Homo sapiens: one gene and its partners. The protein of the gene in region 6 purifies or fractionates together with the protein of the main gene of each other region. This does not show direct contact. Each region holds a gene or a part of one and is shown on either strand. Other genes may lie near its edges.

Region 1 (3,500 bases), on a different chromosome or scaffold from region 6:
GTCTCGAATTCCTGGGCTCAAGTGATCCTCCTGCCCCGGCCTCCCAAAGTGCTGGTATTACAGGCATGGGTCACTGTGCCCAGCTTCTTGCGTTCTTATAGAGTAGAGGTTTAAGGAAAAACTTAGAAAAGATGCTTATATATTTGAGAGAATTTGGGGGCTTTTGTGGAAACCTTCAGTCTAATGCTGGTAACTTTTGAACTTTAAAATATTTTTATTTGTAAGTTTGTACTTCCTTCCCTGCAAACCACCCCCCCCACCCTATGATCTTATAAGAATTAACATTGAGACTATGTAGTTACAGTAGTCCAGTGATGAGAAAAAAGTTAACTGCAATTGAAACCTCCTGAAACTTTTTTCCTCACTAACATTAGTTGTTTTAAGCAGTAGTCAAATTATCAGTAATACTGTTCATTGCTTATGGTCAGTGTAAAACATTTTGTAGTTAGTATGAGGAGTGTGATAAACTCCTATGCAATGGTAAAATCATTCTAAAACACAGTTTGTTAAAAGTCAGAATATTTTCATGTGACATAACATCTATTGCTACTTTGGCTAGGCATGTGGAATGTTATAGAAAAATCCATTAAAATATTATTTTTGGCTTAAAAAGTTATTGATGTGAATTTTATAAAACATATATTCCTTTTCAGAATAAGATGAAATCATTGGCTTCCAAAGGAGTACCAAATGTAATTTCAGAAGATACATTAAAAGGTCAGGATTCCTTGTCAACAGATACAGGACAGTCCCGTCAACCAGAGGAACTATCTGGTGCTACTGGAATGGAGCAAACAGAATTGGAAGATGAGCCTCCTCATCAGATGGATCACCTGTCCACAAGCTTGGATAACCTCAGTGTCACCTCACTGCCAGAGGCCTCGGTTGTTTGTCCAAATCAGGATTACAATTTAGTGAATTCTTTGTTAAATCTTACTAGAAGTCCTGTGAGTTATGGTCCTTACTTTTTCCCCCCTAACATTATTTCAATAATGTGTATTTATTTATTTTTTTAATTTTAATTTTTAATTTATTTTTTTTTTTGAGATGGAGTCTTGCTGTGTTGTCCAGGCTGGAGTACAGTGGTGCGATCTTGGCTCACTGCAACCTCCGCCTCTGGGTTCAAGCGATTCTCCTGCCTCAGCCTCCCTAGTAGCTGGGATTACAGGTGCACGCCACCACGCCAGCTAATTTTTGTATTTTTAGTAGAGATGGGGTTTCACCATGTTGACCAGGCTGGTCTCAAACTCCTGACCTCAGCTGATCCACCCGCCTTGGCCTCCCAAAATGCTGGGATTACAGGTGTGAAGCTCCACAGTTGGCCAATAATATGCATTTAAAATAGACAAAAATCTATTTTTCTTTTAGTGTGAAACATTAAATCCTTTTATGTTGAATGTTTTCAAACAACCTGATGTATATACAATTCAAGAATTGAAGGGGGATTTTTTTTTCCTTTAGGATGGCAGAATAGCTGTGAAGGCATGTGAAGGCTTGATGCTGTTAGTAAGTTTGCCAGAGCCTGCGGCTGCAAAGTGCCTTACACAGAGCACTTGCTTGTGTGAACTACTGACAGACAGACTTGCCTCCCTGTACAAGGCCCTACCTCAGTCAGTGGATCCGTTAGATATTGAAACCGTGGAAGCAATTAACTGGGGGTAAGCACCGTTACTTGTATTTTCCCATAAAGGTGACTTCTTAACACCTACATTTTAAAATCCATTTCTATTTTGCAATGGTAGAAGTCTTTGAAAAATTGAACACCACTAGTGATCATTAAATGGGAATATTTTCTTGAAGCTTGTATTAATCAGTGGTAATGAATTGGTGTGGGAACAATCCAGCTGTTACATAGTTAAGATATTTTTATTTTGTCCATTTTACTGATCAATTTTTAAGGGCTTACATTAAAATCAATAATTTTAACTGATTATTAAAAACAAAAAACCCTCAAAGAAGGAATCTCCTTTTAAAATAATTTCCACAGCCTCTAGAGCAGTCTAATCTGTCTCCTGGCCTGTTTGTACAGAATCTCTTCTACCTCATTCTTTCACCTCTTCTTCCTACCTTTTAGACTCCCCAACTTGATTATCATAGGGAAATATGATTATTGCAGAACGTTTATAAATTATTAAAAAGTATAAAGCAGCATAAACAAGTTGCCCATAGTCCCACCACCTGTAAGCAGCCTAAGGTTTTGACATAATCACCTTTTATTGTATTTCTCTGTATTTTTAACGTGTCTTTCTTTTTTCCACTCTATTTTCTGTCAACATCTATAGGGCAGACCCACTTGTTAACATTATGACTGTATTGCATTTTAGGGCAGGAAGAGAAGTAGTCCACTCGCTATTTCTGTTTGTAGATCCCCATTTACCGTTCTTTTCTTCCATCCCAGCAGCTGAGAACCTCCATCTTTTCGTTGATGTTACTTGGTAACATTTAGGGCAGGAGTATGAGGAGCTATCCCAGTGTTTTTTCTCCTGCAGCTCCACTGTTTTTTTGTTTGTTTGTTTTTTCTTTGAGACGGAGTCTTGCTCCGTCGCCCAGGCTGGAGTGCAGTGAAGCAATCTTGGCTTACCGCAACCTCCGTCTCCCAGGTTCAAGTGATTCCCGTGCCTCAGCTTCCCAAGTAGCTGGGATTACAGGCATGAGCCACCATGCCCAGCTAATTTTTTTTTTTTTTTTTGTATTTTTAGTAGAGAGAGAGAGAGAGTTTCATCATATTGGCCAGGCTGGTCTCGAACTCCTGACCTCAAGTGATCCACCCACCCACGCACGTTGGCCTCCCAAAGTGCTGGTATTACAGGCATGAGCCACCACACCTGGCCTCCTGCAGTTCCATTCTGCTTTAACCTCTCTTCTCCTACTTAATACGTGAAAATTATTTACAGCTCTTATTTAAAAGATTTTCTCTTATCTTTGGTTTCTTTTACAGAATCCTCTTCTCACTGTCCTCCAGCATTTCCTGTGTGAATGTACCATACTATCTGAGTGTGTTCATGTGCCTTCATTTTTCCATACATTCTGAATAGGGTCCATGCTTTTGGATAACTTTGGACTTAGCAATTCTTCCTTGTCTTACAGCTTGGACTCATATAGTCATAAAGAAGATGCTTCAGCATTTCCAGGAAAACGAGCCTTAATTTCATTTCTTTCCTGGTTTGATTATTGTGATCAGCTCATTAAGGAAGCCCAAAAGGTTTGTAATTTTTTATTGTTTTTTGATCATTTTAAGATATAAATATCTATTAAGTGAAATTGGAATCCCTAATTTATATCCCAAATACATTTTAATTGTCTTAGAATACCATGGTTAGTAAAATAAGTAAACAAAAAAGTGTATATGTGTTTGTATGTGTGTATTACAATTCCAGAATAAATCAAAGTTCAAGTTCTGCCCTTTTATATTTCCTTAAATATTATGGTACAGTACTTTACAAAGTAACACTGATTTCCCTTCAGTCCTGCTCTTTGGTGAGATGTTAATACTATATGGA
Region 2 (3,500 bases), on a different chromosome or scaffold from region 6:
ATTTATTGAGTATAACACCATCATGAACTCAATTAAAGCATTTGTTTAAGGCAGCTTCAGAATATCTGCATGGACTTAGTCTGCATCTTATTCAAAAAAATTCTTCCAGTTGATTTTCACTTACTAATATAGAAATATTGGTTATTAGAGCCCTCAAAAATATCATTGTCCAACTAACTCAGTTTACTCAGAGCAGCTAAGAGCTAGAGAGCTCTGTCCAGAACTACAAAGCTAATTAGAGACCCAGCCTGGGAAGATACTCAGACTTTTTGATATTTGCCTGGTGCTCTTTCCATAGTGACAACAGAAAGAAAAGTGGTACCTTAGTCTCAAGCATTTTAAGTCATCACGTGTAACATAGTAGAGAACATCCAATAGTGTATAATCTTCAGCCAAAAACTGTAGAGAAAGTAGAATATGCACAAAAGATGTTTTATATAACTTTAATAAAGCACAAACTCTATTCATAATGTAAACCTTGACTATAATTAAAAATGAATCTAAAAATGAAATCTACTAAAAACACAATCTTCCAGGATTATTAGGGGAAAGGCCTCCCTGTTACTCAATAAATACAAAGAAATGCATCCAGGCCGGGCGCAGTGGCTCACGCCTGTAACCCTAGCACTTTAGGAGGCTGAGGCAGGCGGATCATCTGAGGTCAGGAGTTCGAGACCAGCCTGGCCAAAGTGGTGAAACCCCATCTCTACTAAAAATACAAAAAATTAGCTGGGCGTGGTGGCGTATGCCTGTAATCCCAGCTACTTGGGAGGCTGAGGCAGGAGAATCGCTTGAACCCGGGAGGCAGAGGTTGCAGTGAGCTGAGATTGACCCACTGCACTCCAGCCTGGGCGACAGAGTGAGACTCCGTCTCAAAAAAACAAAAACAAAAACAAAAACAAAAACAAAAACAAGAAATGCATCCATATTAACTTCCAAATGCAAAAAGATTACAAGTGACACAGAACTTCTGAATGGTCTTCTAATGAACAGATGAGACTCACTTGTAATCACTCTGCTGTTCAAAAGCAAATCTTGTATTTAGAAGTTCAATGCTACATAGCTTTGTTTTTCCTCAAGTGGATAAAAAGTGTTCCTGGAAAGGTACTGCCTATGCTTAATTTCTGAACTTATTTTTTCATGGTTAAGCAAAGGCACTTGACTGTAATTCACCATAAAAGCAGAGTCTTAATTTAAACTGCACCTTTATATTTTTAAATTTTATTTATTTTTTTATATATAGAGACAGTCTCACTATATTGACCAGCCTAATCTCCAACACGTGGCCTCAAGCAATCTGCCTATGCTTCCCAAAGTATTGGGATTACAGGCAGGAGCCACTGCACCTGGCCTCAAGCTTTTACTTTTAAACCAAATAAAAAGGGTGATTATTTAGTAGATTATCAATTACTATTCCTTAATTAGGATTTGAGCCTAAGTTAGAGGAATGTATATTCTGGAGTTGTTTAAATTTATTCAGCTGTAACTTGTTAAATGTAGATTTCTAAGGCGGCCCGAAATTCTACTTAGTTAATAAATTATCAAGTCAAAAGAAGAGATATCTTTATTCTTATTTATTTTTAAAATTTAAATATAAAACAAAACAATATTGTATTAAGAGGGTCTTTCTATCAAATATTACAATGTTTTAATGTATGCCTGTGTGTTCATATAATGAACATAAACAAATGCTATTCACGCTCATTACAAAAGTCTATAGGGGCTGGGCGCAGTGGCTCACACTTGTAATCTCAGCACTTTGGGAGGCTGAGGTGGGCAGATCACTTGAGGCCAGGGTTCGAGACCACCCTGGCCAATATGGTGAAACCCTGTTTCTACTAAAAGTACAAAAATTAGCCAGGCTTAGTGGCATATGCCTGTAATCCCAGCTACTTGAGAGGCTGAGGCAGGGAATCTCTCGAGCCTGGCAGGCAAAGATTGCAGTGAGCTGAGATCGCACCACAGCATTGCAGCCTGGGCGACAGAGTGAGATTGTGTCTCAAAAAACAAAATCAAAAAAAGTCTATACAGAGCAGAGAGGAATTAGATTATTACAGGTAAAATATGGTTTGTATAGAAAATATTTCTGAAATAAGTCGACCAGATTGATTTTATTAAGTAGCAATAAAATAGCTGCTGCCCAGTGGAATCTAATAATGTTGAAAAAGAATTAAAAATTTAACAAACAGGCCTGGCGTGGTGGTTCATGCCTGTAGCCCCAGTACTCTGAGAGGCTGAGGTGAGAGAATCGCTTGGGGCCAGGAGTTTAAGACCAGCCTGGGCAACATAGCGAGACCCTATCTCTAAATTTTTTTTTTAATTAGCTGGGTATGATGGTTCATGTCTGTAGTCCCAACTATTCAGGAGGCTAAGGTGGGAGGATCACTTGAGCCCAGCAGGTCAAGGCTGCAGGGAGCTATGATCACTGCCCTCCAGCCAGGGTAACAGAGCGAGACCTTGTCTCCAAAAAAATATAAAATAAAATAAAATAAAATAAAATAAAATAAAATAAAATAAAAATTAACATACAAAGAATTAGAAACAAGAAATTTTTTCTTTTAGTCCTGTCTTTATTTTTTTCCCACTCTTTCTGGTTTTCATTTCAAATACATAAAATTCCTAAGGGGCTCAGGACCACAGAGCTTTTGCCTGCCTCGTTGGATTGTACACACTGCAGCCCCACTGCACAAGGTTCTTCCCTGGTCTCCCTCCCACACCCCTCCTGAACATACATACAATTGGCCTATTTATACCCTCACATTCTGTTAGCCTTCAGCTCTTTCATTCCCTTCTCCAACAACCTTCCCCAACCTCTCTCGCCCTATCTAATAAACACCTGATACCTTTTTCTTCATAGAATTTACCAGTGTAGAATCACATTTGTATCTGTGGAGTTAGCTGATTATCACGTGCCTACCCTGGTCTGTAAGCCTCAGGAGGGCAGGGCTGGGTCTGATTTGCTCACCAGTGTATCCCCTGTGCCTGTCACATAGCAGGCACCCAACATTATGAAACGAAGTGAAAGAATACTTGTCCCACAGACAGTTTTCTTTACCCGGCTTATAGTGTCTTCATCAGCTCCATTCACTCTCAGCCAGTCGGTAAGTTCAGAATCTTCAGTATTTGTGCCAGAAGAATTTAGATGAAATACAGGCAATTCAGGAATTTCTAGAACAGAATTTTGGGAAGATATTCTTAATTTCACCTAACAGAGGTCATCTGAGACCCTCACAATCAACAGACATTTATTGATACTTTAAAAGATTTTGCTCTATCAGAGAACAGTTCATAGAAACAATTGAGATTGGCAGTATAGATGATAATATGAATAAAACTCAGAGAAGTGAATTTACTAGTAAATAAGGAGCAAAAGCAATAATGAAATGACACTCCTACGTTACACTTTCATATCAATTTTATGGTTTCTTAGAATAAACTCTGTGCACCAAAATTAGACTTTGTGTTTTTCATGCAATAAAGATGAATACAATTAGCAGAGA
Region 3 (3,500 bases), on a different chromosome or scaffold from region 6:
TTTGTTTCAGTTTTTGTTGTTGTTGTTGTTTTGTTTTGTTTGCTTTTTGGGACAGGGTCTTGCTGTTTTGCTCAGGCTGGAGTGCAGTGGTGTAGACAAAGCTCACGGCAGCCTTGACCTCCCAGGCTCAAGCCATCCTCCTGCCTCAGCCTCCCGAGTAGCTGAGACCACAGGCATATGCCACCATGCCCAGTTGACTTTTTTATTTTTTGTAGAGGTGGGGTCTCACTATGTTGCCCAGGCTGGTCTCAAACTCCTGGGCTCAAGCAGTCCTCCCACCTTGGCCTCCCAAAGTGTCAGGATTACAGTTGTGAGCCATTGCATCCAGCAAAAGGCTAGAGTTTTTTCAGGATAATAGGTTGAAATCTTCCTGTATCTGTTGATGAAAAGCTATGAATCAGATTGGCAGCATCACAAAGACATAACTTGATCTTTTCAGATTAAAGTATGGACAGCCAACCCCCAACAATTTGTAGAAGATGAAGATGATGATACATTCTCCTATACTGTTAGAATAGCAGCTCAAGACTTGTTGCTGGTAAGTTTACCTTGATACTTCAGCCACATAATTTCTATCAGTCACTTGAGCATTTCTTCTTTTTTGTAGACAACTAATCCAAGGTGAGCAGTGTTGTTGGGTGGCTTTATCTCAGACTTTATTGGGGATGCAAGAGAGTTTCTGAAATGAAATTCGAGACTCAGAAATTCTAAAATCATTGCTACTGGTTCTAACTTAAAACTAAATATTAGATAAAAGAATTGTGCAGACCATAGGGCCGGGGTGCGGGGGAGAATTGTATAGAGGATAAAGTGTTCCATGGAGTAAGGGTAGTTGAATCAAGAACATTTCAGTTTATGGCTGGGCGTGGTGACTCACACCTGTAATCCCAGCACTTGGGGAGGCCGAGGCGGGCAGATCACCTGAGGTCCAGAGTTCAAGACTAGCCTGACCAACATGGAGAAACCCCATCTCTACTAAACATACAAAATTAGCCGGGCGTGATGGCGCATGCCTGTAATCCCAGCTACTCGGGAGGCTGACGCAGGAGAATTGCTTGAACCCGGGAGGCGGAGGTTGTGGTGAGCCAAGATTACACCATTGCGCTCCAGCCTGGGCGACAAGAGTGAAACTTGGTCTCAAAAAAAAAAAAAAAAGCCATTTCAGTTTAATTCACTCTTCAACAAGAATCTATAGCACAGACAAAAGGTTGGCAAACCTAGCAAAACAAAACAGATTGCTGAAAGATTAACATCCAAATACCTGCTCATGTTTTCTTTGCCTCTTCTGACTAGAGCATAGAGTTGTCTCTAGGCTGAAATACTAAGAAGAAACTGCCACTTGCTTCTTGTTGGGTAGGAGATTTGTTCTCTGTTGATGAATCACTTCTCATTATCATTTAGTATTTCTAAGGAGCTGTGAAAGATTATATTCAGTTCCAATTAGTAGATTAGACTTATTTTTCTATCATCAGTCTCCAAGAGAGCAAATATTTGGTCCATTGTCATCCAAAGCTAGATCTATTATTGCTCACTTATGCTCTGCTGAATATAGCCAAAGGAGCCAACTGGTTAGCCTTACAATGCCTAGGCACTACCGAAATACAGATACTACTTTAATTTCATTAGAGACCCTGACCTACTGGTATAACATTTTTAATACAATTAGGGGTTTGCACATGTATGTGAAAGAGCTTGAACCAATCACTTCTAACAGTCATGACTGAAGCGGTTTACAATTAAAATGCATTTAATGGGCACAAACAGATTTATTAGCTCTTCTCTCTCTATAGGCTGTGGCCACAGATTTCCAGAATGAAAGTGCAGCAGCCCTGGCTGCTGCAGCCACTCGACATTTACAAGAAGCTGAGCAAACCAAAAACAGTGGCACTGAGCACTGGTAAGAGTGAGCCGCTAATTGGTTAAGATGCTTTTGTTTACCCCTTCTTAAAAAGTCTTGAAAGGATGGATTTATTTTTATCTTAATTTGAAAATCTGGTTTTAATTTAATAACAGATTTTAATCTCTTATTATTAAAATTTCACTCTTTTCAGCTATAGGTTAGAATGGAAGGGCTTAAGGTAAATGACTCTTTTGGAAGAGATTGTGCTGGAGTGCCCTTTTCTGAATCTTGTTTCCTCAAATATTTATCTCTTTTGGCAGTTTAGTATGTTTTACTAGGCTGTAGTATCCTTTCACAGGTGGAAGATCCATGAGGCATGCATGCTTGCCCTAGGCTCAGTGAAGGCCATCATCACTGACAGTGTGAAAAATGGCAGGATTCATTTTGACATGCATGGGTTCCTGACCAATGTCATCCTTGCAGACCTCAACCTCTCAGGTATGTTTCAGCACGTGCCAGGATTCTAGAAACTCTTTAAACCTGTTGTGGGGTTGGGGGAGGGATCAGCATTAGGAGATATACCTGATGTAAGTGACAAGTTAATGGGTGCAGCACACCAACATGGCACATGTATACATATGTAACCTGCACATTGTGTACATGTACCCTAGAACTCAAAGTATAATATATATATATATATATATATATATAAAGGAAACTCTTTAAACCTGTCATTAACTTGGTTATATTGTTCACTTAGACTGGTAGGCCAGATATTCTTGTGTCCTTTGAGTGAAAATTGTTTGCACCCTACAGCTTGAACTCATCCGAACCTCTAAAACAGCCCAGAGGCCGATTCAAGCTTCACCTAATGACAATCTAATATTGCCTAGTTCATAATTCTTCCGTGATGTTTATGTTTCTTCCCAAATTGGCGTTCCCATTCATGGTTGTTTTTGGCATTTGAATGGAATCCAAATCTGGTTGCTGTACCTTGAGAATTATCGAGTACTGCTCCCATTGTTAAGTCCAGAATGCCCTCAGGCATTCTGTATCAGGCACATTCTTCCTGTTTGTTTCCTGTCATTTTTCTCAAACTTTATTTTTGGCCAATATCCAAATAATTAAAATGTTCCATTCTCATACCCATGTTAGCCATCTGTCTTAAAAAGAAAAAAGTAGGCCAGGCGCGATGGCTCATGCCTCTAATCCCAGCACTTTGGGAGGCTAAGGCAGGTGACTCACCTGAGGTCAGGAGTTCAAGACCAGCCTGGCCAACTTGGCGAAACCCCATCTCTACTAAAAATATAAAAATTAGCTGGGTGTGGTAGCAGGAGCCTGTAGTCCCAGCTACTCAAGAGGCTGAGGCAGGAGAATCACTTGAACCAGGAGGCAGAGGTTGCAGAGAACTGAGATCACACCACTGTATTCCACCTTGGGTGACAGAGCGAGACTTGGTTTAAAAAAAAAAAAAAGGTAGCCCTTTACTATTAGACCGATTTCTTCCGCAATACAGAGCAGTAGCTGAGAATCATTGTTGTCTATGTGGCATTTTCTGCTACTTGCTTCTGCCATGCCATGCCTTTTCTCATCCTTGGAGCCAGATCACCATCCGAAAACACTGCCTTTGCTTTCTCTCTCAGTACTTAAATCATGGAAC
Region 4 (3,500 bases), on a different chromosome or scaffold from region 6:
TTTATTTCAAATTTTTAGTCATTTCTGTCTTTTATGGCCATAGTGCTTGACTATTATTTTATTTATTTATTTATTTATTTATTTATTTATTTATTTATTTGAGACAGGATCTCTTTCACCTAGGCTGGAAGTGCAGTGGCAGGATCTTGGCTCACTGCAGCGTTGACATCCTGGGTTCAAGTGATTCTCCCACCTCAACCCCCTGAGTAGCTGGGACTACAGGTGCATGCCACCACACGCAGCTGATTTTTGTATTTTTTTTGTAGAGACAGGGTCTCACCATGTTGCCGAGGCTTGTCTCCAACTCCTGCGATTAGGCAATCTGTCCACCTCCTACTCCCAAAGTGCTAGGATTATAGGCGTATCCCAGGCTGCCCATGTAATTCTTTTTTAAAATTAATAATAAGCTGGATTTAAAGATTTCAAATCTGTTAGAAAAACCAATAAAAGAGTATTGATAAAGAATAGTGCTTTATTTACTGATATTTACTTACTGTCTTTGGACTTCTACATGGTTTTTCCTACCTTACTGTTTTCATTTATAACTCTATCCTTTGTATATTAAATTGTTGTTGTAGTGGCTATGGCTTTATTCTGTCATTTTATAATAACCTCTTTCTCTTTTTTTCTATTTTTCTTAGTTGTTATACATAAATCTTCATGTTTTAGCAGTATAACTTTTTTTAGTACAACTGTACTAGCTAATTTGGGAATATTGTATGAAATTTTTTCCTTTGTTTTAAAAATTACTTTGAAGCCTTCCATGATCACTTCTATGTGATTAATATTCAGTGGCCTTTAGAGGAAGACAACTCTGAAGCTTTATGTTTATGTATTTCATGAATAAAAACTTTCTTATTATTTCCTATTTGCAGGTACAGATGAGGGGTATCTAACTGAGCCTGGAAGTTGGAGGAGGGGAGTCATTCCTAGCAGAGGAAATAGCACACGTTGTTAGTATTCCATGTAAAATAAATTTTATACTGAAGATGATTGGAGCCATTAGAGCTTTTTGAAAGAGAGTAATATGATCAAATTGATATTTAGTAACATTGCCTTGACAGTTGGTAGGAAGAATTAGAGGGTATTGAGACTGAAGCAAAGAGAGCAAAGTTTAAAAAATGATGATTCTCTGTTTTGAAGCAGTAGTGGACATAGACAGAAGGTTGCTTGCATTGAGTTAGACAGTAGTGAAAGAGCGTATAGATTGAAAAGGTAAAAATTACCAAGGCATGGTAATCTTTTATATAATGGAGAGAGAGAAATGTGTGATGCCTCCCAGGTTTCTGGCTTGGGAAACTAGGTGGATCACTAAGAGAAGAAATAAAAGAGGAGGAAATGTTTTGGGGGAAAATGAGTAGTCATGTGTGTATATTGTTTGAGACGGAGTCTCTGTTGCCAGGCTGGAGTACAGTGGCACAATCTCGGCTCACTGCAACCTCCGCCTCCCAGGTTCAAGTGATTTTCCCGCCTCAGCCTCCTGAGTACCTGGGATCACAGGCGCGTGCCACCACACCTGGCTAATTTTTTGTATTTTTAATAGAGACGGGGTTTCACCATGTTGGCCAGCCTAGTCTCGAACTCCTGACCTAAGGTGATCTGCCCGCCTCGGCCTCCCAAAGTACTGAGATAGCAGGCGTGAGCCACCACACCCAGCAGAGTAGTCATTATATTAAGATTTATGTGTGACATCCAAGTGGAACTGACCAGTAGGTGTTTGAAAATGATGGTTTGGCACTTAAGAGGGAAGTCTGGAATTTCAAATTTAGGAGTATCAGTTTATAAATAATATTTGAAACCATAGAATTGGATGAAATGGGCCAGGAAGAGTGTGTGTATAGAGTGAGAATATCAGGACTGGAAAAGGAACTGTGGGAAACAACATTAAAGAAAAAGGCTGCTGGGCAGACTGAGGTTAAAGATACAGGAGAGAAAGGTAAAACTCGTTAGAGGAAGGTCCTTGAGAAAACTGAAGTTTCAGTGGCATAAGTATATGAACAGGATTTCAATCTGAGAAAGGACACATTACCTTCTGACAGAGGAAGGACAAAGGAAAAACCGGGTTTGAATGTGACAAATTTGACAGAAGGGAGCGACAAGTTGTGGGCAGTTTGGTCTGTGGCCTCTGCTTTCTTGCGAAGATAAGAAACAAGCTTGTTAGTAGGAATAATTAAGTGATAAAAGAAGTAGGGGGTGGCAAGTTTGAGGAGAGCAGTGGATCACTTTGGAGAAGTGGAGGAGAAATTGTCTTGGAACACTTAAGAGTCTTAGCAGGAAGAGTGGTTGAAATAATGGTGGATTGTGAGAGCTAGGTTGGATTCCCAAAGAAGGAAAGCCAATAGTTTGGATTGACTGGATGATGATGGGAAGGTTAAAGGCTAGCAGCACCTATTTCATCAAAGAGCAGTGGGGTTGGGGAGTGAGAGAGCTAGAAGGATAGGAGTTGGGACAATGGTGGGAATATTGCATTTCAGATTGCCCAGCACTAGAGGATGATGAAGTCCAGGGAATGGGTGGTAGAAGAGTAAAGGGAAAGAAGTTCATTTGAGTTTAGGTGGTCAGAATTAGGGAATTGGATAGATTCCTTTTCTCTCTTTTTAAATGATGCAGAATCAGTAAGGGTATAAATAATTTAAAAGTGCAAGTAGTCTTCCTAGGCTATGTAGTTTAAGTTTCCTGTTACCCATTCAGGCCTAATAGAAATTGGCTGGCAGAGAAAAGCAAAGGTTTCTTGTGATAGAGTTCCTCAGTATCCAGGTGTTTTGCTTTGTTAACTGGCTTAGGGAGACCCCTAGTGAAAGAGATGCCTTCTACTTACTGTGACAGGATTTGCCATTTAATCAGATATTTAGGGACTGTGACTAATGTCATTGGCTCTCCTGGTTGGGTTAACACCTCATTTGCACGACCTTATGACATTGAAGATGAGGGCTGGATAATCTTTACGAGCTTACTTGGGATCTGTTTTGGTTTAGTATTTTATAATGTGGTTTCTTCCTCTTGACATTGTGTTCTTTCTCCCATAAGCGTAATATAATATATTCATGCTTTATATATTGAAAGCTATAAACTGAAATAAATGATTACCTGTGCTTTGGTGACAGAAAAAATAAAAGACATATTCTCTAACTTATAAGCCAAAAAGGAAGACATATTTCAAAATTTGATTTATTTTTCTTTTTTCCTTTATGTAAGCATAGCTGAACATTTTCAACCATGTATGAAGTAGAAGGTTTTGCTGTTACTGTTATAATTTAACAGAAATTTATGAGTCTCCTAAAAAAGCACAGCAGGAACACAGAAATAATTGAGAAATTGCCTTTAGTCTCATGAAGTTAACTCAAGGTTGAATAAAATGTTGCCTTCCCACTAGGCTTGGAACTTTGCATCCTTAGACTCTAATGCAACATGCCATATTAAATATTTCATTTTACAGATGAGGAAACTGGTATAGACAGGTTTAGTAATTTGCATAAGGTAGTAAAGCTGGAAAATGGTGG
Region 5 (2,321 bases), on a different chromosome or scaffold from region 6:
CCTGCCGGCCTCGTGCCGGAGGACACGGAACTTCACGCCAGCTGCAAGGATAGCAAGCGGCTGACGAGGGGACGCGTGGGGGCTGGCCCCACACATGAGCAGAGGCTGCAGGTACCTTCCTCTCTGAGGGGCACCCGGGTGCTGCTGGCCGTGGCCACCCACGAAGCTCTCCCCGCCCCCTCCGTCGCCCAACTCCTGGAGCTGGCTGCCAGGCCGGCATCAAAGCCTCCTGCAGCCAGGCACGGTGGCTCACGCCTGTAATCCCAGCATTTTGGGAGGTGGGCGGATCATGAGGTCAGGAGTTCAAGACCAGCCTGGCCAACATGGTGAAACCCCATACGTACTAAAAATACAAAAATTAGCCGGGTGTGATGGCGTGTGCCTGTAATCTCAGCTACTTGGGAGGCTGAGGCAGGAGAATCGCTTCAACCAGGGAGGCGAAGGTTGCAGTGAGCTGAGATCACACCATTGCACTCCAGCCTGGGCAAAAAGAGCAAGACTCCATCTCAAAAAAAAAAAAAAAAAAAAGCCGGGCACGGTGGCTCGTGCCTGTAATCCCAGCACTTTGGGAGGCTGAGGTGGGAGGATCACGAGGTCAGGAGTTCGAGACCAGCGTGGCCAAAATGGTGAAACCCCCATCTCTACTAAAATACAAAAAATTAGCTGGGCGTGGTGGCACACACCTGTAATCCTAGCTACTCGGGAGGCTGAGGCAGGAGAATCGCTTGAACCCAGGAGGCAGAGATTACAGTGAGCCGAGATTGCGCCATTGCACTCCAGCCTGGGCGACAAAGTGAGACTCCGTCTCAAAAAAAAAAAAGCCTCCTGCAGACTCCACTGAAAGAAGCCAGGTGTCCGGCAAGCAGGGAAGAGCCCCAGTGAGGGACGGGCGCAGGCTGTGCTGTTGAGTGGACGGGGTTTTCCGGCACAGCGGACGGGGCACTTACTGGATGGTGGCCGCCCTGCTGGCTCCTAGTGCCTCTGACTTTGCCGCGCTTGGCCCCTGGCCTGCAGTTCAGACTCCCAAGCCCAGAAAATCCCAAGGCAGAAGAACAAAGGCCTGTGGCCTCAGGTCTCCAGGGTTCTGAACCTGCGCGGCAGGTGAGTCTCTGAGTCTCTCTCCACCTCCCTGGAGGCAGCTGGTCCTGCAGACCTCTGGGACTAGGAGGCCCTGTCCTCCCTGCCCGCTTGCGCATGCATACCACGGCTTCCAGGCTGGAGGCACAGTGGCCCATGCTGTCCTTGCTTCTGCAGGGCCCACAGGTGTGGTTCCCCTCCACCTACCCAGGGCCAGCTGCCCAATACGCAGCACTTACCCGCCAGCCTGTAGGGCCGGCAGAGCCGAAGACCCAGTGAGTACAGCGGCAGGGAGTTGATGAGGTCCACGAGCAGATGGATCAGGCCCTGCACGGCGACCACCAGGAGCCGGAGCTGTGGCAGAGGAGCATTTAGGACCGGCCCGGCCAGACGCGCCTGGGGGCAGAGCAGTCCGACCCCATCCTGGGCCACGATGAAGGGGGCCCAGAGGCTGCAGGGTCCTGGGGAGAGCAGGGACCCCACCCTGAGCAGGGCACGGAGTCTGCCATTGGGCCTTGCTCTGGAGCAAAGCTGGAGGCGGAGCACCCGGCCCTCTCACCAGGTCAGAGGTGCCTCCCCACAGCCTCACATGCAGAGGGGATCGAGGCCTGGGAATCAAGCAGGTGCTGGAGGTGGTTCTGCTCACCTCCCACTGTCTGCCCCAGTGCCAGGCACCAGGGGAGGCCTCTTGCGTGACCCCACCTGCCGTGGGGTCCTTCCACCACGCACCCAGCTGCGTGCTCCAGGGCAGTGAGGGTGTCTTACTGGCCAGGATAGGGCCTCGCCCACTCCAGAGCGCAGCACTCACTGCCCAGAGGGTCCTGAAAGGCCACCCACGTGGCCTGCAGCAGGAGACAGCCCGCCCCACAGCTGACTGCTCCCAGGCAGCGCTGGCAGAAGCCACACAGAGCACTGCAGCCAGGCCCAGCCTGTGGGTGCTCAGCTCACCAGGGTGAACACCAGGTAGTACAGGGCTGTGGTAGGCAGGAGGAAGAGCAGGATGGTGAAGAGCAGAGTCCCGATGAACAGCTGTAGGGAGGGGCCAGCACACCGGGCATCAGCAGGACCCCGCGCCCAGGGACGGCCCAGCACTGTGCCCTCCCCCATCCCGGAGCTGCAGTCGGGACCTTGCGGCTTCCTGAGGGAACTCGGGATGGCCTGCTCAGAAGCAGTCCCAGTAGCAGGAGGGCTGTCCACCCACACCCCACGGACTAGGGGACTCGCAGGGAGACAGGTGGGGGCCA
Region 6 (3,500 bases):
AAAATATTCCCTTCTTTGGGAAAAGCCAATTAGACCTGCCCATATCAAGGCACATTCACCCTTGGTGAGAGACAGTGACAGAGGTGGCTCCTGGGAGTGAGCAAGAAGCACAGGCCGACAAGAACATGTGCTGAAGAAGACCTGGGAAGTTTCTTGATCCACCCATAGATCCTCCATCCTTCCTCTGCACTCTCCCTGACATCTTTCCTCCCTCTGTCTATGGTAATAGGAACTCAAAGATCTGACTAGGGAAATGTTATTTATTTCAACTTGAATTTACAATGTAATTTGCTTGGTTATCACCTAGGATTCTTACTCCTTAGAAACAATCAGAAATATGTGGTTCTTATTTTATATTCTTCCCTCCATAATCTTATTTGGAATGGGAATATAAATTAGTGTAGCCATTATGAAAAATAGTACACAAGTTTCTTTAAAAATTAAAAATAAAATACCATATGATCCAGCAATCCCACTACCAAGTATATATCCAAAGAAAATGAAATCAGTGTGTCAAAGAGATATCTCTCATCCAGGTACTAACCATGCCCAACTCTGCTTAGCTCCTGAGGTCAGACAAGATAGGGTGCATTCGGAGTGGTGTGACCATAGAAGAGATAACTGTACTTCAATGTTTATTGCAGAATTATTCACAATAGCCAAGATATTAAATCAACCTAAGTGTCCATCTGCAGATGAATGGATGAGGAAAATGTGCAATATATACACAGTGGAATACTATTCAGCATAAAAATAAGGAAACCCTGTTGTTTGCAGTAACATGGATGAACTTGGGGGACATTATAACAAGTGAAATAAGCACAGAAAGACAAATACTACATGATCTGACATATATGTGGAATCTAAAAAAAGTCAAATTCAAAGAAGTAGAGAGTAGAATGGTGTTGACCAGTGGCTGGGGTGGCGGGGGTGGAGGTGAAAAGACGTTGGTCAAAGATTACGAAATTTCAGTTAGACTGGAGGAATACGTTCAAGAGATCTCGTGTACAACATGGTGACTACAGTTAATGAAAATGTATTTTTGAAAAATGCTAAATGAGTAGATATTGTGTTCTCACCACAAAAATGACAACTGTACGAGGTAACATATATTTTAATTTACTTGACTCAGTCATTGCACAATGCCTATATATTTCAAGACATCATGTTGTACATGACAAATATGTACAATTTTATCTGTCAATTAAAACATAAGATCAAAAAAGAATTTTATTTGGAAAAAGTTTAAATATGTTTGGTTTGCCTTGGAAACACTATGTGAAGAAGGCATGTACACTTGGCAGTTGTATTTACAGAATGTGAACACACTGTTAGCTACCACATCATCCTGTGCCCCTCATGAAAACCCACAGGAAAAAATATTCTTTAATCTCAATTCTAGAAATATTGTTATCTTCTTGGGCTTCTAGCCTATTGTCTGTTGTGGATTCTGAATTTTATTATCAATTTTGTTTTCATTTTTGCTATGATCAGGATGAAATTTGGAGACAGGTATGGTTCACCATTACCAATTATATAGGGACATTTAAAGTATGATTTTAGACTAACTTCTATAGCTCTATTTTACTATTTTATCCTTATATTACAGTCCCTCAATCTTCTTTTTATTCATTTTACATCATTTAATTTATACTCCCCAAATTTCCCAATCTCCAGCCTTAGGGCTCACCCTTTATTCAACACACCCATGAGAAATCCAGGGAATGTAAAGTATGAATTCACAGGAAAGGAATGTCTCTGCTCTCTTAATGGGTTTTGATGTCTGAACGCACCTACAGATTCTGGCTCAGCAATGTAGTCCCCCCATGTGCCTACTCACTGATGGCTACTGTCTTCTCTCTGTCCCTTTCATCTCACCCTTGAGCACAGTGGTCTCCTTGTCACTACCCAAGTGACTTTTGATGGGTAATGGAGGAGAATTATCACTGAACTGAACAGAAGCCATTGAAACTCAAATATCATAGATGGTTGTTACAAAGTTCCTTGACCGTTCTTAGTAAAGGTTGTGTCTTAGTCACTTTCTTCTTTCTTCCGTAGGCTCCCTTCTGTTGCCACATTTGGGCCAAGGAATGGAGAGATTTCTTCGTCTGGAAACATTTTGCCAAACTCTTCAGATACTCTTTCCTCTCTGGGAATCAAAGGAAAATCTCTACTAGTGTGTTATTCAGAGAAATTTTGTCCACTCTTTGCTTCAAACTCTCTTATCCAGATCAGCCTTTATTATGAAATAGCCGAAATATAGACCAATAAAGGGAAAACCCAGACATTCATATAAAGGGTTAGCTCTCAGGTTCTTGTATCTGATATATTAACCCAGGTTAACATATAAGTGATGGCAAAGAATCCAGTGCAGTAATGTGACTTGTATTCCTTTTTCCTTTTTTTTCTTTCTTTCTTTCTTTTTTTTTTAGGATGGAATTATCTTCTAAGTTTCAGAGGTAGCTTAACAACTAAATGGAGGTGAAAACTGCTTTTCTTGGTTTCTTTCCTTATAAATGATTCTCTTCATTGCAGGATCTTACACATTTGTTCCATGGCTTCTCAGCTTTAAAAGGGGAAGTGCCCTAGAAGAAAAAGAGAATAAAATATTGGTCAAAGAAACTGGTTACTTTTTTATATATGGTCAGGTAGGTTGAAACCCTAATTCTGGTTTTACTGTTCAAAGCCTCCCATTTTGTGTTCATTTCTGACACAGTTTTTTGGTTTGTTTCTTAGGTTTTATATACTGATAAGACCTACGCCATGGGACATCTAATTCAGAGGAAGAAGGTCCATGTCTTTGGGGATGAATTGAGTCTGGTGACTTTGTTTCGATGTATTCAAAATATGCCTGAAACACTACCCAATAATTCCTGCTATTCAGCTGGTAAATATTAGTTCTCACACCCTGCTAATTGTGAAATGAAGAGACTTTGACGAAAAATCTGAGCTGCAAAATGCAAAAATGAAAGGATGGTGCCCTAAAATACAAATAGACAGAAAGACATTCCTCAATATATTGTGTTTTTTAAATCTTGAATAATAAGCTAGTCTGTTTTAATTGAGAAAGATGGAATTATTACTAATAGTTTTACCATTTTTATATACATTTAGAAAGGGTAGTAATTTCATAGCAACTTCTACCTTGTACATAATACATGGTACATAGTACTTCTACATAGTAACTTCTACATTGAGAAAAAATTCTAATGTATTTTCTTCAACACTTAATAACAACAATAATAATATCTGACAAGGATAGAGTGATTACCACTTGCCAGGCACTCTTTTCTGCATGTTATATATGCTTGCTTATTTAATCTTCGCATTTAAGGGAGTTAGGATCTAGGCACAGAGAAGTAACATAACTTGTCCCAGGTTACACAGCTAATTTTTAGACTTGGTTTAAACCAGCCAGTCTGGCTCCGCACCGGGAGCAACCAAAACTCTTCTTGCATGCTGTGGAAGAAATGCCCCTGGCCAGGCTTGAGGGTAAGGGA
Region 7 (3,500 bases), on a different chromosome or scaffold from region 6:
AAAAAAAAAAAGAGAGTTGCCTGACAGGTATAAAAATAATAGAAAATAAAAAATTCAAATGCAAATAGAAACTCAGAAAAATATTAAATCCTTAAAGTCAAAAGACTAAGTCAAAAAGAAAAATTCAAACATCAATGGGAAAACTGACAAAAGACTGATCAAACACAAATACAAATGGTCGCAAATGTATAAAAGTATTCAGTCTTAGTAGTAATTGTTTTAAAATAAATTAAAACAACGTGACAACTTTATTGGTAGACTGGTAAGAAAAGAGTAACAGCCAGTGTGGGGAAGTAAGCACATGCATACAGTATGGTTGAGATGTGAATTGATTGCCTTTGAAGAAAACTATTGGCAGTATCTATTTTTTTAAATGGGGAATAGGGGCAGGAAAAGAGTGAGGAGAGGGAAGAGAGATGAGGAAGGAACAGAGACCAAAACATGGATGACTCATGTTAGTTCTTGACTGGTTACAGTTTTTCACCATTTATTAATCTGCATTTTATAATCTGTTTTATTCTTACAATCAATTTAAACAAGAATTTCTAGGATTCCAATAAAACTGGACCTAATTCCTTGCCTGTTTTTTCCTTCCTACATCTCTCTTCAAAACAATTCTCAGTAACCTATTTTCATGCCCAGCCATAACTCAACAGAAGCCACCCAGAATAATGAGGTGGACCCCTAAATACCTAAGAACTCCCCTATATCTGAAACATAACCACTGCTGCACCCATTCTGAAAGAGACATTACCTCTTGGTAGTGCTGACCACTACTTCATTTCCCATTTGCTAATCAAGAAGCAATACTTCAGATGAGCCCATGTCACCAATCCATAGAAGCATTTCTAAAGGTGGTCCAATTTCGCCCAAAGGTTTGAAAGCACACTACCCTCTCTTGTACACTGCTCTACCTAATAACTTTTGGAATGACAAACATAAACTATCTCAAAGATCTTTATAAATACAGTTAGGTTTCACAGAGCACCTTTGTACCATGAATAATTGCCTAGAAAATCTTCTGCTCCCAGTTTAATCATGCTCTAAAAAGAAAATCCATGTAGGGCCCTTGCCATACCATGAATACAAACCACTAATTAACCTGAATCCATAAAGTTGGCTATGCTATTTCTCAAACTTCACTGCCAAGACAGTTTTTAACTAGCACATCCTTTGATCCAAATGTAATACTAGAACTATACAGAAAAAATCAGCTTTCAAGAACCAAACTGCCATATCACTTTGCAATCATTATAACTGATTTAAAAAATAGTCACAAATTGGCCAGGCACAGTGGCTCATGCCTGTAATCCCAGCACTTTGGGAGGCCAAGTCAGGTGGATCATGAGGTCAAGAGATCGAGACCATCCTGGCCGTGAAACCTCATCTACTAAAAATACAAAAATTAGCTGAGCGTGGTGGCACACACCTGTAGTCCCAGCTACTCAGGAGGCTGAGGCAGGAGAATCGCTTGAACCCGGGAGACAGAGGCTGCAGTAAGCTGAGATCGCACCACTGTACTCCAGCCTGGCAACAGAGTGAGTCTCTGTCTCAAAAAAACAAAAAAACAAAAACAAAAAAAAGTCACAAACTGTTAGAACTAACGAGGGCTTAAATGTCTTTCATTTTATAGGCAGGTAATTAACGAAATACCTTAAGTACGCAGCATTTTTTCTTGTTTCAAATATGGAGTGTTTACTAAAAACTATGTATTTACAACTATTAATGATACACTGATTAAAATCATTAGTTCAAAAATGCATGTTTTATTTACAATGACATCAAAAAGAATAAAATACTTAGGAATAAACCTAACCAAGGAAGTGAAAGATTTGTACACTGAAAACTACAAAACACTGCTGAAAAAATTAGACACAAATAAATGGAAAGACATCCCAAGTTTATGGGTTAAAATACTGTTAAGATATCAATACTACCCAATGTGATCTATAGGTTCAACACAATCACTATCAAAATCCCAAAATCCCAAGGCAAGTAGAAAAGTGCATCCTAAAATTCATACAGAATCTCAAGGGACCCCAAATAGCCAAAATAATCTTGAAAAGGAAGAAGACAGTTAGAGGTCTCACATTTCCTTATTTCAAAACATATTACAAAGCTATAGTATTCAAAATAGTCTGGTACTGGCATAAAGACAGACACACAGAGCAGTTAAACAGAATAAAGTGTCCAGAAATAAACCCTTGCATATATAGCCAATTAATTTTCATACAAGGACACAAAGACTACTCAGTGAAGAAAGGACAGCCTCTTCAACAAATGGAACTGGAGAAACTGGATATCCACATGCAAAAGAATAGAGTTATACCCTTTATCTTACACCATAAATAAAAGTTAACTCAAAATGGGTTAAAGACCGAAACATAAGACCCAAAACTATAAAATGCCTAGGAGAAAGCATAGGGAAAAAGTTCATGACATTGGATTTGGCAATGATATCTTGGATATGACACCAAAAGCAAAAGTAACTATATCAAACAAAAACTTTTGTTCAAAGAATATGATCAACAGAGTGAAAAGGCAACCTGCCAAATGGGAGAACATAGTTGCAAATCATCTGATAAGGGGTAATATCCAGAATATATAAGGAACTCCTATAACTCAACAACAACAACAAAACCTGAATATAACGTGGGCAAAGGACGTGAATAGACATTTCTCCAAAGGAGATATACAAATGCCCAAGAAGGATATGAAAAGACGCTCAATATCATTAATCATTAGAAAAATGCAAATCAATACCACAATGAGATAGCACCTCACACCACTATCAAAACAAAACAAAACAAAAACAACTGTTGGCAAGGGCATGGAGAAATTGGAATCCTTGTGCATTATTCACGGGATTCTGAGATTATGCAACCACTATGGAAATGTGGTGGTTGCTTAAGGAATTAAATATAGAACTATCACATGATCCAGAAATCTCTCTTCTGGGTAGATATGCAAAATAGTTGAAACCAGGGTCTTGAAGAGATATTTGCATACTCAACTTCACAGCATTAGTCACAAGAGCCAAGAGGTAGGAGCAAGCCTAGTGTCCACGGATGGATGAATGGATAAACAAAATGTGGTATATCCATACAATGGAATATAATTCAACCTTAAAAAGGAAGGAACTATAAATGTTGTCTTTTTTATATTTTTATGAAAAAGCAGAAAATTACTTTTGAAGAAAACAGGCTATTTAAATATTGAAATATATGTATGTTGTGAGTTTAAGGAGCCTGTAATTGTCAGTTTTACAAAATCATCCGTGTTCAATGGTTGTAAATAAATTCTCAAAACATCATTTCAAAAAACAAAACAAAAAAAAAAAAAAGGAAGGAACTGTCACATCCTACAACATGGATTAACCTTACAGATATTATGCTAAGTAAAATAAGCAGGTCACAAATCCTGCATTATTCTACTTATATGAAGTATCTAAAGTAGTCAAATTCATAAACACAGAAAGTAGAATGGTGGTTACCAGGAGC

What was found.
Region 1: the proteins of TNFSF13B (region 6) and FHIP2A purify together in Homo sapiens (affinity purification with mass spectrometry; 4 studies listed by BioGRID and IntAct, with this or other methods). This does not show direct contact.
Region 2: the proteins of TNFSF13B (region 6) and MAP3K5 purify together in Homo sapiens (affinity purification with mass spectrometry; 3 studies listed by BioGRID and IntAct, with this or other methods). This does not show direct contact.
Region 3: the proteins of TNFSF13B (region 6) and IPO9 purify together in Homo sapiens (affinity purification with mass spectrometry; 3 studies listed by BioGRID and IntAct, with this or other methods). This does not show direct contact.
Region 4: the proteins of TNFSF13B (region 6) and MON2 purify together in Homo sapiens (affinity purification with mass spectrometry; 3 studies listed by BioGRID and IntAct, with this or other methods). This does not show direct contact.
Region 5: the proteins of TNFSF13B (region 6) and PIGQ purify together in Homo sapiens (affinity purification with mass spectrometry; 3 studies listed by BioGRID and IntAct, with this or other methods). This does not show direct contact.
Region 7: the proteins of TNFSF13B (region 6) and TMEM131 purify together in Homo sapiens (affinity purification with mass spectrometry; 3 studies listed by BioGRID and IntAct, with this or other methods). This does not show direct contact.

Annotation. Positions count from the first base shown.
Region 1 is NC_000010.11:114,842,280-114,845,779, forward strand, and holds part of FHIP2A (FHF complex subunit HOOK interacting protein 2A), read left to right. Parts: intron 1-653; coding exon 654-947; intron 948-1,461; coding exon 1,462-1,658; intron 1,659-3,087; coding exon 3,088-3,202; intron 3,203-3,500. UniProt on the Homo sapiens protein: Required for proper functioning of the nervous system.
Region 2 is NC_000006.12:136,558,478-136,561,977, forward strand, and holds part of MAP3K5 (mitogen-activated protein kinase kinase kinase 5), read right to left. Parts: intron 3,169-3,500; coding exon 3,056-3,168; intron 400-3,055; coding exon 323-399; intron 1-322. UniProt on the Homo sapiens protein: Serine/threonine kinase which acts as an essential component of the MAP kinase signal transduction pathway. Plays an important role in the cascades of cellular responses evoked by changes in the environment.
Region 3 is NC_000001.11:201,856,657-201,860,156, forward strand, and holds part of IPO9 (importin-9), read left to right. Parts: intron 1-439; coding exon 440-538; intron 539-1,790; coding exon 1,791-1,897; intron 1,898-2,198; coding exon 2,199-2,338; intron 2,339-3,500. UniProt on the Homo sapiens protein: Nuclear transport receptor that mediates nuclear import of proteins, such as histones, proteasome and actin. Serves as receptor for nuclear localization signals (NLS) in cargo substrates.
Region 4 is NC_000012.12:62,469,826-62,473,325, forward strand, and holds part of MON2 (protein MON2 homolog), read left to right. Parts: intron 1-875; exon of another isoform or gene 876-953; intron 954-3,500. UniProt on the Homo sapiens protein: Plays a role in regulating membrane trafficking of cargo proteins. Together with ATP9A and DOP1B, regulates SNX3 retromer-mediated endosomal sorting of WLS away from lysosomal degradation.
Region 5 is NC_000016.10:579,968-582,288, reverse strand, and holds part of PIGQ (phosphatidylinositol N-acetylglucosaminyltransferase subunit Q), read right to left. Parts: intron 2,107-2,321; coding exon 2,026-2,106; intron 1,432-2,025; coding exon 1,317-1,431; intron 42-1,316; coding exon 1-41. UniProt on the Homo sapiens protein: Part of the glycosylphosphatidylinositol-N-acetylglucosaminyltransferase (GPI-GnT) complex that catalyzes the transfer of N-acetylglucosamine from UDP-N-acetylglucosamine to phosphatidylinositol and participates in the first step of GPI biosynthesis.
Region 6 is NC_000013.11:108,300,718-108,304,217, forward strand, and holds part of TNFSF13B (tumor necrosis factor ligand superfamily member 13B), read left to right. Parts: intron 1-2,058; coding exon of another isoform or gene 2,059-2,176; intron 2,177-2,535; coding exon 2,536-2,648; intron 2,649-2,736; coding exon 2,737-2,887; intron 2,888-3,500. UniProt on the Homo sapiens protein: Cytokine that binds to TNFRSF13B/TACI and TNFRSF17/BCMA. TNFSF13/APRIL binds to the same 2 receptors. Together, they form a 2 ligands -2 receptors pathway involved in the stimulation of B- and T-cell function and the regulation of humoral immunity.
Region 7 is NC_000002.12:97,985,949-97,989,448, forward strand, and holds part of TMEM131 (transmembrane protein 131 precursor), read right to left. Parts: intron 1-3,500.